Linked DNA regions of Homo sapiens: all the other regions are reported to be linked to region 2. Evidence: microRNA targets listed by miRTarBase, many of them from high-throughput screens and not tested one by one. Region 2 holds a microRNA gene; each other region holds the end of a gene's coding sequence.
The links. Region 2 holds the annotated microRNA hsa-miR-491-5p (AGUGGGGAACCCUUCCAUGAGG, at 1,419-1,440, shown strand). A microRNA usually pairs through its seed, bases 2 to 8, with sites in the 3' UTR of a target mRNA and lowers its output. Matches are read on the target gene's strand: a 7mer-m8 pairs with bases 2 to 8, a 7mer-A1 pairs with bases 2 to 7 and ends in A, and an 8mer does both.

Region 1 (5,086 bases), not on the chromosome of region 2:
AAAGCACTCATCAAAATTTGCAATTATCTTGTCGGGTTTTTGTTCTTTGGTCTTGATTCATAATGAATGCATCGCACTATTTTGTAAATCCAGTGTTTCGTTTCGTGTCTTGAATCCCATCCATTCCAGCGCATAGATGAGGCCCTGTCTGTTCAACATTCATCACCGTGTTTACTATCTAGAGCAGCAATTCTCAAAGTATGGTAATTGGGACCCGAAGACTCTTCACAGGGTTCATGAGCGCAAAACTATTTTCAGACCAACATGTTCTCTGCCTTCCTTCGCTCATGAGTACATAGTGGAATTTTCTAGAGGTTACACAATTTGAATATTGCAACACATTGAACGAAGACGCAGGTACCAGAACATAGCTATCTCCTATTAAGCCAGACATTAAAGAGATTTGAAAAAATACAAAATACTGCTTTTGGCTAGGCAAAGTGGCTCGCACGTATAATCTTGGCACTTTGGGAGGCTGAGGAATTGCTAGAGACCAGCCAGGGCAACCCTACTAAAAAATTAGCTGGGCGTGGTGGCACATGCCTGGGGTCCCAGCTACTCAGGAAGCTGAGGTGGGAGGATCGCTTGAGCCCAGGAGTTTGAGGGTGTAGTGAGCTATGATCAAACCACTACATTGCAGCCTGGGCAACAGAGCAAGACCCTGTCTCAAGACAAAAAACAAAAAATAAAACCCCAGATACCACCCTTGCCACTAATTTTTTGTCTTAGAAAAATTATTTCTCATAAAAAATTAACTTTATTACTTAGAAATAATTTTTAAAATTGGTTTTAATTTCCATATGGTAACTATAGTTATATAACTACATTTTATGTATATGTAACAAACAAAAGCTCTATGGGTTCTCAACATGTTATTTTTTAAGACTATAAAGGGTTCCTGGGACTAAAATGTTTGAGGGTGTTGGTAAATCCTGGCTATAAATGGAGAGAGAAATAAAAAGCCACTGAGAGACACACACCAGGGTCCTCAAGGGAAAAGTAGAGAATCATGACCCTTTCCCAGTATTTTTTTCACAAAGACCACATGATTTCTGGAGTGTCTCCTCTTCTACTGAAATAAACGTTCTCTTCTGAGAGGCAAAGAATCATAGAATGAACACTAGATTAAGAATGTGAATTTAAATGAAATAATCCATGTAATGTGCTTAAAATAGTAAGCAGTCAAGAAAAATTAAGTTTACAAAATAAGCATCTGAATGTTAGTTCAAAATCCACCATTTATTCACTGTGAGACCTTGGATACTTTATTTAACTGCTGTGAATCTATTATCTGGAAAACAGAAATAACCAAGGCCATATTACTCTCTACATAGTACAACTACTCGTGGAATTGTGATGAGATCAAAATTTTAAAATGAGATAATGAATTAAAGCAAATAACAGTATTATATGGTCACTCATTATCATTTTAGATATTGTGATTTTTCCCATAGAACTTTTATGCTAGGATACTTTTAAGAATTCTTATACATATAAAAGCTTTCAGTTTGTGATGAATATTTTGTGACCTCCTGTTAAGGACTGAACGTTTTCATCTCTGAAAAATTCCAGTGTTGAAATCCTCGCCCCCAAAGTGATTATATTGGGAGGTGGGGCCTTTGGGAGGTGATTAAATCATGAAGGTGGAGGCTGCATGCATGGGATTGACACCCTTACAAGAGGGACCCTTCAGAGCTCTCTCGCCCTCTATCCTCCGTGTGAGGTTATAAGGATAGCTGGCAACCCAAAAGGGAGCCCTCATCAGAACCCGGCCCCGCTTCCAGCCTGGTCCAGCACCCGAACTGACTTCCAGCCTCCAGAACTATGATACATTTCTGATGTTTACAAGCCACCCCCCAGACTATGGTACTTTATTATAGCAGTCCAAACTAAGACACGTTCCAAGACTTTCACATCATAGGTATTTCTTCCTATTTTTATATTTGGCTCTGTTCTTCAGACAATGTCAGATGTAAATAGGCAAAACTATAATTTGACATAAGCTTTTAGTGGTAAAAGTGTTTAAGTTTAAATATGTATATATTTACTATCTGGCCTTTTATATAAAAAACTTGACCCGAGGTAGATTATTGAAACTTCCACAATAAAATGACTTCTTCAAAACTTTTCTTCCATATTTATGTAATACTTCACTTACTTGACTACTTTCCCCACATTTAAATATATACATATTTAAACTTCATGAAATATATTTACATTTCATGAGTATAAATTGCATGTATCTCATGTACATCCCAATTATCTTTGCTACGACATACATATAACAAAGATAACTAGGATGTACATGAAAAGATTATCAAGGTACTCACCAAAAATCTTTATAGTTACTATTCTGGATGGTAGAATAAAGAATGTTTTATATTTTTTTCTTTTGGAATTTGAATTTTATATTGACTATGTATCATTCTTACAAACAAAAAATTTAAAGCTATTTTCACCTTGAAAAATAAAAAAACACTAGAAAATTTTGTCAGCAAATCTTTCAAAAATTCACAAGGAAAAAACTTATCACCTGAGGGTACGAAAAAATGTGGAAGAATTTCATTAGGCAGTAGAGGACTTATTGATGACAATTTCAAATTTGATAAGTCTAGGGGAAAACAACCAAACAAACATGCAAAGCTGACCAATAAAGTCAGCAGTGCTATTCCTTTCCTTCCTTATGTTTCTAAACAAACCATAAAATATACAACAGATGTACTACTCACTGGCCATTGTCCTGTAGCATACAAACATGACATTATTTTTTCTTCCACATAATTCATTTATTTGATAAGCACTTAGGAACACCCACTATGCTCACGTACTGTTGTAGGGGCTGAGGCAAAATGGTGACTAAGACTGAGAGTATCTGCTCTCACAATGCTTAATAATCTAGTGGGGAAAGGAGCCAATAAGTAAAGCATTACATAAATATAGCAGAAAACTTTAGAAGAAGTTATTTTATTCTATAAGTTTCAATAATGTACTTTAGGTGTCAAATTTTTTATGTAGAAGGCCAGACAGTAAATATTTTAAGCTTTGTGGGCCACACAGCCTTTGTGCAACTATTCATCTCTGCCACTCTAATGTGAAAACCGCCACAGCCAGCCCATATACAATTAGAGTGTGACTGTGTTCTAATAAAATTTTATCTATGAAAACAGGGGTGAGATAGATCTGACTCACTGGCCATAGTTTGGCACCCCAGATCTATTTTAAAAGCTAACAATAACCACAAAATAAAATCCTAAAAGTTTTTCAAAGCATAATTGAAAGCATGTAGACCTAGCAGTAGAACTAGTTCAGTTGGTGTTTTCCTGTGTTCTGAAGCCACTGAATTGCTTATACCAAAATCACTTTTATTTCAAATTTTCTATGACTTTGGAAAAAGATCCTAAGAAATAACTAATAACTTAGGACAAAGAGTACACCTTTAAAGCTGCTTCTGTATTTAAAGACTCTGTGGACTTAAAATCATATCTGAATTCTCTTCATGGTTCTGTCAATAATTTGATGCAAAATAATGATGAAAAAATTTAAGTTTGGTTTCTGGATCTTTAAAAACTTTTAGAAGGGTACTACCAACTAACTCCATAGCAGCCAACATGAATAAGTTTTCACTGGAACCCACTGAGGATCTCAGGGCTCTAGTGAATATTCTCTGGTAAACAGAATGTGGCTAGCCTTCTCTTCAAACTAAAGAGATTTTTTTTTTCTTTTTTTGAGATGGAGTATCACTCTGTCACCCAGGCTGCAGTGCAGTGGCGTGATCTCGGCTCACTGCAACCTCTGCCTCCTGGGATCAAGGGATTCAGTCTCAGGAGTTGCTAAGACTACAGGCGCACACCACCACGCCCAACTAATTTTTTGTATTTTTAGTAGAGATGGGGTTTCACCACGTTGGCCAGGCTGGTCTGGAACTCCTAGCCTCAAGTGATCCTCCCATCTCTGCCTCCCAAAGTGCTGGAATTACAGGTGTAAGCCACCGTGCCCAGCCCTAAAGAGATCTTTTAATTTCAAAAGAAAAACATGTTTGTTGGAAGAAATAAACTAAACAAAACTGTAAAAAGTAAAAGCCCCTCTCCTAGTTGTTGAGTTTATCAGTTTACTTAAAAAATGGCTGTCGCTTATGCCTGTAATCCCAGCACTTTGTGGGGCTAAGGCGGGAGGACTGCTTGAGACCAGCAGTTTGGGACCATCCTGGGCAACATAGCAAGACCCGTCTCTCCAAAAAAAAAAAAAAAAAAAAAAAAATTGCCAGGTGTGATGGTGCACATCTGTAGTCCCGGCTACAAGGGAGGCTAAGGCAGGAAGACTGCTTGAGCCCAGCAGTTCGAGGCTGCTGTGAGATATGATCCCACCACTGCACTTGAGCCTCGGTGGCAGTGCAAAATCCTGTCTCTAAAAACAAAAACCAACAAAAAAAGGCATCTTACTTTCTATGTGGTCCTGAAATTTTTTTCAATTAATGTCAATGACTTTTAATTGTTCTCTTGGTTATCTAACAAGAATCAATAGAAGACTTTTACAAATTAAATGTTATAGAAAATTCTTTAACCAACTCAGTTTAATTCTAAACAGCTTCATGATAAAAAAAAAAAAAAACTTCCTTATATTTCCCAGTAATAAGAGGTTACTGTACGTCAAAAACAAAGGGTTGCAACACTTACTGATATATTGTAGTTTAATAAAACATAGTTTATACAGTTCATTGAAAAAGTATTTTAATACAAACACCACTTATACACAAAACCAAATGTTGATATTCTTGTTTTTAAAAATTCTTGATTTCTCTAAAACACTAAGATGCTATCTCAATAGAGATTGCTTCACATTTTCCAGTTTCTTGATCTGTGCATGTCACATGTAAAGATCCATCCCTAAACAGACAAAAAAATAAAGAACATTGCACAAGCTCATTTTATAAAAACATAAAGTCTGTAACAAGTTACTTGAGGGCTTTCAGTAAACAAGGGTTAATTTTAATTTTCAAAAGAAGGGTATTAATGTAAAGAATAAACACAATCTCAGTGTCTCTAAATTTAGTAAGTGTCATATGTTATATTTAGCTAGTTGTTATTAG
Region 2 (5,000 bases):
CTCTCTTTCTCTCTTTCACTTTTCTTTTCTTGTGAGCCCAGTAGGAATGATAAGTGAGATATAAATATTAAAAGTTGGTGCTAATTGTTTGCTTGTTCCTCCTTTAGGAAACAGTCTGTTTTAATGTGTGAACTTCTAGGTCTTTTCTATACTTCTTGAAAAAAGTTCACCTAGGCTTCACACTTGTCACTAGCAGTTGGATTAGTGCTTAGATGAAAGCTTGTGCCAAAGTGAGGCATAGATGAAGTAATTTTATGACCGTTTGACTCTTTCTCCCTTATAAGTTTTGATCCACAAAAGAATTAATTTCTATTTCAAATGTGTGGTTGAACTTTTGGATGTTTTTTTCATTTCCGTAGTGCAAATTCATCTTTTTCAGGATTAGCTCTCATGGGAAAAACCAAGAGCTGTTGGGCATTTTTAGTTTATTTATCAATCATGACATTTGAGTGCTGGATGACAATGAAGTTTTGCCAAGGATTACTCTGCAGAGCCCTGTGCTTTATTTCCATTGTTATCTTTGGAATGGATTACATTCACATTATTTGAGGAATAATTAATTGGAGCCCCAATTCAGACCAGTTGGAAGACTAACAAATATTCTTTTGTTTTGGTTACAGAAGCTGCACACATACATGTAAGAGAAGCAAAAATGTCAGATGATATCAGGAAAAGGTTTGAATTTCCAAATTCTCTTATCCAATCACAGGTAATTTTGTTTGTTTATTTTTGCTCATGGTAACAAATAAACCTGTTCTGTGGATTTTTAACTGAACTTTATATATTTAATATTAAATATTTTATTCTACATGTAGAGATTTATATTTTGTGAAACAACTTTAAATATACATTTAATTTGAAAATATATATTTGACATGGAAAGCAAATATTTGAAATTGATCAATCTCAGCTTCTGTTTATATATCATACTTTTCTTCCTAGAGATAATAAAACCTTGATTAACTAGTAGGCCCCTGAATATGTTTGTTTGGTTTTTTTTGGCCTATGATTATTGGGAACAGAGGTAAACAGTTATATGTCTGAAGAGTATGAGGGATTAATATTTAAGAAGACATATCCTACCCCTTATATAGATTTTTATAATAATGATATTTAATAAGTAAAATATCCTGGATTAGAAAATTTGATATATCTACTAAGATAGAAGATTGTGATAACTTTAAAGAGCTTTTCAATAATTAAATAGTTAAAACAAAGATGGCTTTCTGGGTAGCCTTTAGCTAACTAGAAACATTCTGGTTAATCAAGGTATCATAATAGCTTATTGTCTTTTCTTGTGAGAGTAAAGCTAACAGACCAGCAGAAGCCATCTTGAAGACTTAACAACATACAGCACCTTGGATACTTTCAACAATTAACTTCGGAGATGTCTGCTGTGGGAATTGACTTAGCTGGGTAGTGGGGAACCCTTCCATGAGGAGTAGAACACTCCTTATGCAAGATTCCCTTCTACCTGGCTGGGTTGGAGTCATATCCTGCAGGTCCTTACCATGAAGAAGAAGATGAAGGCTTGGAGGATACTATTCACAGTTTTATTTTTCTGTGCCTGGAGTCTCTTTGTTAACATAGATAATCAAGAAATGCCCATACGTGTTACTGTTAAATTAGGTGAAAAAAATATATATATATATTTATATTGTTTAGTGTAGGATGGCTATTTGAATTCTGTTATAGAACACTTAAGTAGCAATGTAGGCTGATTTATCCTTGGGTTTTGTATTTTAAAAAATCAGTTTAGGCTAGTATCTCTGATTTGTTAGAAGATGAAGTGAAAAGTATATTAGATAAATTCAACCTGGTGGGGAATGGGGAATTAAGCTTCTCTTCTTTTATTTCTTTTTCTAGATATGAACTATAGCTTTTTCTTTGTCCCTATTGTGTTTCATATTAGTTTTATTAGGTTCTTGTGATTGTGTCCTGTCCTTTGCAAATATTTCTTATTGTTCTTCTGTAACCACTGCTCGATGTTAGCACCATATTTCTTTGATTCACACACGTTTTTTTTCAGATTTTAACATCTTTGAAATTGGATTGCCTCTAGTAATTGATGGCAGCAGTTGAGATACAGTTGGTATTGCCTGCACATTTGTGAACTTGGGCATGATTTTCTACACGAGTCTAAAAGAACTCTTGTGTGACTATAAAACCAAAATTCCGACTTATAAGAAGCACTGTATATCATAGACTAATTGGCAGCCTTTTTTCTTTCTTAGTGGCACACAGTATAATGGTGCAACTTGCAATTCCTGGTCAGTTCCATTCAATGAAATATGGTATGTTTTGTAAAACAGGAGCTCAACCTATCCATGGGTGCTCAGTTCTTATTACTATTCCTTTTACTAGGAGATAAGAGACAGTAAGTTGGACTAAACTTAATATTCATGTAAATGAGTGACTTATATCACAAAACTAGACCACAAGCACCACGGTCTTAAATCAGTTCCAATGTGTGAAATACAAAGAGAAAAATGAGGAAGGAGTGGGTGCTGTGTTTTTATTTGAGCTGTTCTGGAGACTTTGCAGGACTGACAGTTATTCACAGCTATACCGTAATTTGGTCCCAAGTGCAGGATGGACAGTTGTAGCAATAGTGAAGTAGTTTCCAACCCGTACACAGAATGGCAATGATTGTTGCTAGCCTATTGGCTCTAAGACATATTCTTCATATTCGTTAACAGTGTGATGAAGCATGGTGGATTTCGTTTCAGTGCAAAGATGATTTTAAAAACTATGGGCTTTCTCATTCATGTTTTAATGGAGTAAGCAATCTCAAGTTATCTTCTGATACTGACAGCAATTTGAACCAAAAATCTGGCAGTTTTCTTAACCTCTATGCACTATAGTTGCTTATTGGTAACCTGGGATAGATATGCCTACCTTGAGGGCTATTCTGAAGATTAGAAATTGTGCATGTGGAGTGCCTAATTCAATGCCTTCTACATAGCACACACTTAGTTAATGGGAATTTTACTTAATCCTAATTGACTGCCTGGCATACTCATATCAACTAGTATTGATATTTGGAAAGAACTTCTAAGGGACTGTGTTCATTAATTTTATTTCTTTTTAAGGCTGTGGGTCATCTTATTGCTGCAGTCCTAAAGGAAAATGGTTTTTCAGAAAAGATTCACCAATCTACAAATCAGGTCTGTGTTTAACTTTATGCTTTAATTCTCTTCAGATAAGATTGCTACTAGCTGGATCACATATGCACCTGTCTTGTTTCCCTGATAGTTCAGATCACAGTAGAAATGCTTTTGAACTGTGAGAACTTCATTGCCTTTTTTGTTTATTTGTTTGCCTTTTTAATATATAGCAATAAAAAAGTTTTAAATTTATTAAAACCCTCTAGGAATGAGACATGGAGGGAAGGGCTGGAGAGGAGTATTCTTATGACTATTAATGAAAAATAATATGGGTGGAATGAGAGAAAGCATGCTTTAGAGAAGATTGATAGAGTTACCTCTGAGGGAATTATTTTGGTAATGAAGAGAATGAACAGAGTGGCTCTGTTTGGATGTAGATTTCTCATGCTTCAGCTCAGCCCCAGCTGTGAGTTCTTAGTTGGAAAGGTCATACATTGACAGTCAAAGCTGAAAAATTCCATCTTACACAAATAGCAGGTGAATGCTCAGAGTTGAAGCAATGCCAGCTTACTGAGATACACTTGGGGTTTGGTTGATCAGTGTTGTGTGTTTTGACCTGCTAGTTGGGAAACTCTTCTTTTAAGAGAGGTGTTCTCAGGTGTCCTCTATAGGGAACATAAGTGATGGAAATAAGATTCTTTTTTTTCACAGCAGAAATAAATTGATTTCCTTTGTCTCACATTCTTTTTGATTAGCTGCTCCAAGTTACATTTCTTTATTGCTTCTGCAGACATGTTGAAGTAAGTGTAGGACACACTTCACTAATTGGCATTTTTCTGGTGTTTGTATGTAGTCATATAAATTAGGTTTTCTGAAAACTCTGATCCTAATCCTGCCTATAATCACATTGTGTACTTTGAGAAGATCTAGTGATTTTACTTAAACTGCCAGGATTTATTGAATGTCAAATCCCTGTAACTGTTTCCTCTTCTACTAAAAATGAATGCTTACACAGTCTTACCTGAGGCAGCAGTTTATTTATTTGTTTGTTTTGTTTTTCCGGTGTAATAATAGAGTGATGACATTTAGAACCTTTTGATATTGTCAGTACAGCTGAACACAATGTCCTTATGAATAAAAGGAGAAGTGGAATATAAATATTTCCTTCCTGTAGTGATTGTTAACTGTATTGTTATTTTAATAGTGGGATGCTAAGATAGAAAAGATTCTTAGCCAGCTACAGAGGGAAAGTGGGTACAAAATGATGTTGATTTTCTTTTCTTTTTTTTTTGAGACAGAGTCTGGCTCTGTCGCCCAGCCTGGAGTGCAGTGGTGTGATCTCAGCTCACTGCAACTTCTGCCTCCTGGGTTCAAGCAGTTCTCATATCTCAGCCTCCCGAGTAGCTGGGACTACAGGTGTGTGCCACCACACCCAGCCAGTTTTTTGTATTTTTAGTAGAGACTGGGTTTCACCATGTTGGCCAGGCTGGTCTCGAACTTCTGACCTCAGTTGATCCACCCGCCTTGGCCTCCCAAAGTGTTGGGATTACAGGCATGAGCCACAGTGCCTGGCCTTGATTTTCATTCTTTTATTAATAGTTATTCTTTGGGAGCCGGGATATTAATTTTTCCCAAATTATATATTTCCCTAATAAGTTGCATCAGGAAAAAGGAAAAATTGCTTCATTATTTGTTCTTTTTTTTTTATAATACAACTGTGTGTAAGTCTAAATGGACTTTATCTGCAATATAGTCATATAGGTTTATTGTTAGTAGTGAACCATTTTGGTGGTCCTGGATTCCTGAGAAAGTTATAAAAGCTAGAACCCCTGCTTTGATAGGGTATTCTAAAATGAAAACTTATATTTACTTATATGTCCTTCTCATGCTCTT
Region 3 (5,086 bases), not on the chromosome of region 2:
ATTGGGGTGCGGTTGGAGGGTTGGAGGGGAAGCCTGCGAGGACTGTCCCTACTTGTGAGGGCTGAAACACCAATTCCCAGAGGCAGGATGGAGGCAGGTGTGTGGGGACACAGGAGGTGGAGGGGCTCACTATATCTGTTCTTGGGCAGCTCACTTCCCTTCTCTTAGTCTCAGTTTCTTTCCTCTTCTTTTAGAGATAAGGTCTCACTATGTTGCCCATGCTGAAGTACAGTGGCTTTTCACAGATGCAATGATAGCACGCTACAGCCTTGACCTCCTAGGCTCAAGCAATCCTCCCGCCTCAGCCTCTCGAGTAGCTGGGACTACAGGCTGTTGCCACTGCATCCGGCTGCCTCAGTCTCTTTACTTGAGAAATGGGACAATAACTTCCATCTCCAGAGTAATTTGGAAACCAAAGAAGAACACACACAAAGCTGTTTCATTAAGTTCTCTGTAACATGGGGGACTCTGGCTACAACTTACATCATCTGAACACCTACTATGTGCCAGGCACTCACCCTGATCACCGTCACCGGGCATGCTGAGCACTGCCATTTCTCACCCAGGCAGAGATGCTTGGAGGTTATGTAACTGAACACGATTACACAGCTGTGAAGCTGGAGCTGGACCTGGAACTGAGGTCAAACTCCACCGCCTTTGCTCCCCACACACCTGCCTACACCCTGCCTCTGGGAATGGTGTTTCAACCCTCACACAGGGGGACAATCCTCCCAGGCTTCCTCTCCAACCCCACCCCGATGGTGGGTAGGGCAGAATTCCGCCCAACTCCCTAAGTTACAAAGGGCCTCAGTTTCCTCATCTGTCCAACAGGGACCACACTGCTGCGCCTCACAGGATGACGGCTACAGGGATCAACCGCCCCCCACACCAAAGCACCCTGGGCCTCCCTCGCACTCTCCTGTTCCCCACCTGCCACCTGGAGACGCCTCTTCCCCGCCCCTCACCCTTAGGCGTGGAGGCGAATGCGCAGGTCGCCCCCATCTCAGTTTCCCCGCCATTCCCGCGCTCACCAGGGGTCCGGCTGCCGTCGCTCAGCGGGTGCCATGGGTCACGGTCGGTGGCCACGAGTAGGCACTCGGGGTCGCGCAGGTGCGCGCACGCCTCCCTCAGCTTGGCGAAGGAGAAGTGCTCGTCGTAGCCCACAAGCACGGCGCGCACGCGCGGGGCCGCGCCGTCCCCCGCGCTCGGGTCCCCGGCCAGGCGCAGCCCCGCGGCGCGCAGCTCGGCGCGCAGCCCCTCGCCGCCCAGCACGAACACGGCGCCCGGCGCGTCCGGAGGCCCGGGCAGGCGCTGGCGCAGCAGGCGCGCGGCGCACAGCGCGGAGCTGAAGAGCTGCTCGGCGCGCAGCCCCCCGAAGCCGAGGCGCGCGAAGCGCAGGGCCAGCTCGGGCCGCGCGCGCCGGCTGTTGTTGCTCACAAACAGAGCCGCCTTGCCGGCCCGCGCCAGCCGCTCCAGCAGCTCCGGGGCGCCCGGCACGGCGCGCTCGCCGTTCCACAGCACCCCGTCACAGTCGAACAGGACCCCCTGCGCCCGGCCCAGCACGTCGCGCAGGGCCGCTCCGCGCAGCCTCTCGCAGCGCGCCATGCAGCCGGCCGGCCGCCGGCCTCCCGCGCCGCGCTCTCTCCGCGGGCACGGCGCGCTCTCCCTGGCACGTTCCACGCAGCCGCCAATTGGCGCGCTGGAAGGACCGGGGGGCGGGGCGACGGCGTGGCCTGCAGCCAATGGGGGCGAGAGTCTGGGAGAGGAGCGAAGCCGCGAGCTAACGGAACTTGGAGAGAGGGGCGGATTCGTGGCCAACACCGAGGGGAAGGGACCAATGAAGAGCTAGCTTGATCCTTCTCCCCGTCCCTGGTTCTGCTGGACCAGTCGCCGCCGAGTTTCAACGCCGACTACACTCTTACGCGGTGGGAGACTGACGCTCTTCTTAACCAATAAGAATCTACAAACAAAACGCGAAGCGAAAGGCCCCGTGCCCTCCAGCCAATCAGAAGCTTAGGCGAGCTGGTTGCTGGGAGAAAAACAGATGTTAAATGAACTGCCTTTGGGTCGAATCTCATTGCCCCCTGAATCGTGGACGCTCCAGTTCAGAGCGAAGTCCCAAGAAACGTGTGTGTACGATGGGGTACGAGGCACATGGTGTCTTCTTGGGTGCTGGAGCCCTCGGTCTAGACCAGTAGTTCTTCACACTGCGTTAGAGTCCCCTGGGAACTTATTTTCAGATATCATTTACATATAGTAAAATGCATAGATCTTAAATGTACAGTTCAATGTCTTGACAAATGCTTTTGAAATCACCGATGTGTAGCAGGACAGATCCTCATGTAAGTGTTTTGGGTGAAGACTGGGCATTTTTTGGTTTGTTGGTTAGTTGGTTTAATTCCAGGGATTCTACCGTGAGCTAGGATAGGGTAGGGAAGCACTGGGCTAGAGGCTGGTAGGCTGTCACTGCAGCACGCCCCGGGAGGGCAGGATCCAGAATGGTCGTGGCCAATTGCCCAGAATAGTAATGGGGTGACCCAGGTTGGCTGGGTCCCTGTCTTAGGGAGGAGGCCTTGTGATCTGGAAGCAACCACAGGTCTTGGGACCTTTGAGGAGCCACTGGTCTGCAGTGTGGGGATGAATGAATTGTGAGCTGTGGTGTCACAGTTTTGAAGTTGTCTGCCAACTTCAGATAAGGCTGTGACCCCCAGGAGCAACTGGAGCTCCAACGACTTGGGAAAAACTGTACCTTGTACCCAACCTTGGAAGCTCAACTAGCTCCTATTCCCCAAGTGCCCTAAGCCTTTTGCTCCTGGCCTTTGCATAGATAGTCTCCTTGGCCTGAATGTTCCTTTTTCCTTTAAAAATTTCACCTTCAGGGCCGGGCTCGGTGGCTCACGCCTGTAATCCCAGCACTTTGGGAGGCTGAGGTGGGCGGATCACGAGGTCAGGAGATCGAGACCATCCTGGCTACGGTGAAACCCCGTCTCTACTAAAAATACAAAAAAAAAAAAAAAAAAAAAGAAAAAAATTAGCTAGGCGTGGTGGCGGGTGCCTGTAGTCCCAGCTACTCGGGAGGCTGAGGCAGGAGAATTGCTTGAACCCAGGAGGCGGAGCTTGCAGCGACCTGAGATCGTGCCAATGCACTCCAGCCTGGGCAACAGAGCGAGACTCCATCTCAAAAAAAAATAAACAAAAAATAAAAAATAAATAAAATAAATAAAAATAAACAAAATTCACCTTCAGGTCAGCTCCTGAAAGACTTCCCTTAAATATCACCTTCTCCAGGAAGCCGTTCTTAACCACCCACCCCATACCATGAGTCTAGGTTATATGGCCACCCCTAACTTGGCTAATATGGGCTCCCAGTGCAATGACACTTGATTTTTTTTGTTTTTGAGACAGGGTCTTACACCGTCACCCAGGCTGGAGTGCAGTGGCATGATCACTGCTCACTGAAGCCTCCAACTCCTGGGCTCAAGCGATCCTCCTGCCTCAGCCTTCCTAGTTGCTGAGACTACAGGCACACGCCACTACACCCAGTTAATTAAAATTTTTTTTTTTGTAGAGACAGGGTCTCACTATGTTGTCCAGGCTGGTCTAGAACTCCTGGGCTCAAGTGATCCTCCTGCCTCAGGCTCCCAGTGCTGGGATTATAGGCATGAGACACCGTGCCTGGCCAGACACTTGATTCTAATGGTTGCTTCTGCCTGTCTGTTTGGGAACTCTTTGGGTGTAGGGTTAAGTCTTGGAGCTAGCTCAGGGCCTGGCACAGAGCAGATTTAGGGAAGGTTTGAGGACAGATCCATCCCTGCTCCTTGGGGAGGCTTCCCAGCCTCCTCCCGGAAGGAGAGTGAGGGGTCCAGGAAACAGTGGGAGCGGTAGGGGCTTCTGTGGGCCAAGGGTGGTGCTTTGGTTTTCAATGGAGAGCAATACCTCTGTGGAGGGAATTGTTATAAAGTTTCACAAATGAGGAAAAGGGATACCAAGAAGTTAAGTAAATTGCCCAGAATGTGAGGGACAAGCCAGGCTTTGGAGTCAGACCTAGGCTCTAATCCCAGGCCCCTGCCTGACTGCCGTGTGACCTTGGCAGGTCACTTCTGTCTGGGCCTCAGTCTCCTCACTGCTAAGAGGTAATGGTATTTCCTGCAGTAGGAGAAGATTAAGTGGAAATCATCCACAGAACAGCACAGCATGTAGTGCAGAGAAAGCTCTAAAAATGTCTGCTGTGATCTCACTTCAGACAGGAAGAAAGGAGGCAAAGAATATGTATTGTTTTCCCCTTTATAAAATTGGCTTCTTTATTTCAAGGACAGAAAATAAAACTATCATTTGGGCAGCTGCTCCAGTTTTGTCCAAAATAATTTATTTACCAGCCTTACAAAAAACATGTCGGCAAGAGAAGAATCAGTCCCGTAGGAGCAGGCAAACCTCTCCTTCCTTCCGGTGGCTCCCCTAGGACCTGCCGGAGAGTGGAGAGTCCGGTGGGGGGGTCCCCAAGCCCAGGGTGGACGAGGAAAAGGTCAGGAAATAGAGGATTGTCCTGAGCCCTCCTGGCCATGGGGGCCGACCCAGTGGGCACTGAGGCACTTGTGGGCAAAGGCTGGAGGCCCATGCCCCTTTGTGGGGGGCGAGAGCTGTCCTGGGAGGGCCAGGTGGGGAGGGAGGGGGTGCTGAGGGCTGCTTAGGGAGAAACCAGCCACTCAGTTGGTCTCTGAGGCAAGGCTCCTGGGGCGGGGCTGAGGGGGGATAGCTGGGGGAGTGGGGACCCCACTGATAGCCTCAGGGGCTCCTCCCTCTGCTGTGGCAGCCCCCAGGTCCACCTGTGCAGGGTTACTCAAAGAGACTGGGCTGGGGGAGGCTGGACCTGGGGAGGCCGGGCTGGGGGAGGCTGGTGAACGCCGGCTTTGGCGCCGGGCAGGCTGAGGGGGTGTGGGGGGTAACGGGGGTGGCACTGTGGGGGCTCGGAGGCTGCTGCCAACCAGACGTCGGGGCAGGGCTTGGGGGGTCCCAGGGCTGCCAGAGCCAGGGGGCAAGGGCGGGGCTGGAGGGGAGGAGCGGGAGCCGGAGACCTGGGGGGGCGGCA

Region 1: miRTarBase lists HSPA14 as a target of hsa-miR-491-5p. The part of its 3' UTR that is shown has no 7-base or 8-base seed match.
Region 3: miRTarBase lists SH3BP1 as a target of hsa-miR-491-5p. Seed matches in the 3' UTR shown: 7mer-m8 at 4,656-4,662 and 7mer-A1 at 4,623-4,629.

Annotation. Positions count from the first base shown.
Region 1 is chr10:14,871,325-14,876,410 of GRCh38, reverse strand. It overlaps HSPA14 (heat shock protein family A (Hsp70) member 14), which reads right to left. Exons shown (of 14, transcript NM_016299.4): 14 at 4,670-4,883. The coding sequence ends at 4,805. SUV39H2-DT (SUV39H2 divergent transcript) reads left to right here. Exons shown (of 1, transcript NR_186426.1): 1 at 1-88. Among named protein-coding and RNA genes, the nearest start is that of SUV39H2-DT, 4.8 kb to the left of the region's middle.
Region 2 is chr9:20,714,702-20,719,701 of GRCh38, forward strand. It overlaps MIR491 (microRNA 491), which reads left to right and starts at 1,404; the gene lies at 1,404-1,487. It overlaps FOCAD (focadhesin), which reads left to right. Exons shown (of 44, transcript NM_001375567.1): 2 at 621-709; 3 at 3,093-3,167. The coding sequence starts at 653.
Region 3 is chr22:37,655,302-37,660,387 of GRCh38, reverse strand. It overlaps SH3BP1 (SH3 domain binding protein 1), which reads right to left. Exons shown (of 18, transcript NM_018957.6): 18 at 4,271-5,086. The coding sequence ends at 4,704. PDXP (pyridoxal phosphatase) reads right to left here and starts at 1,665. Exons shown (of 2, transcript NM_020315.5): 1 at 1,032-1,665. The coding sequence starts at 1,605. PDXP-DT (PDXP divergent transcript) reads left to right here and starts at 2,011. Exons shown (of 6, transcript NR_109952.1): 1 at 2,011-2,133. RefSeq lists enhancers at 1-462, 1,289-1,790, 1,979-2,028, 2,039-2,108 and silencers at 1,169-1,278, 1,479-1,788.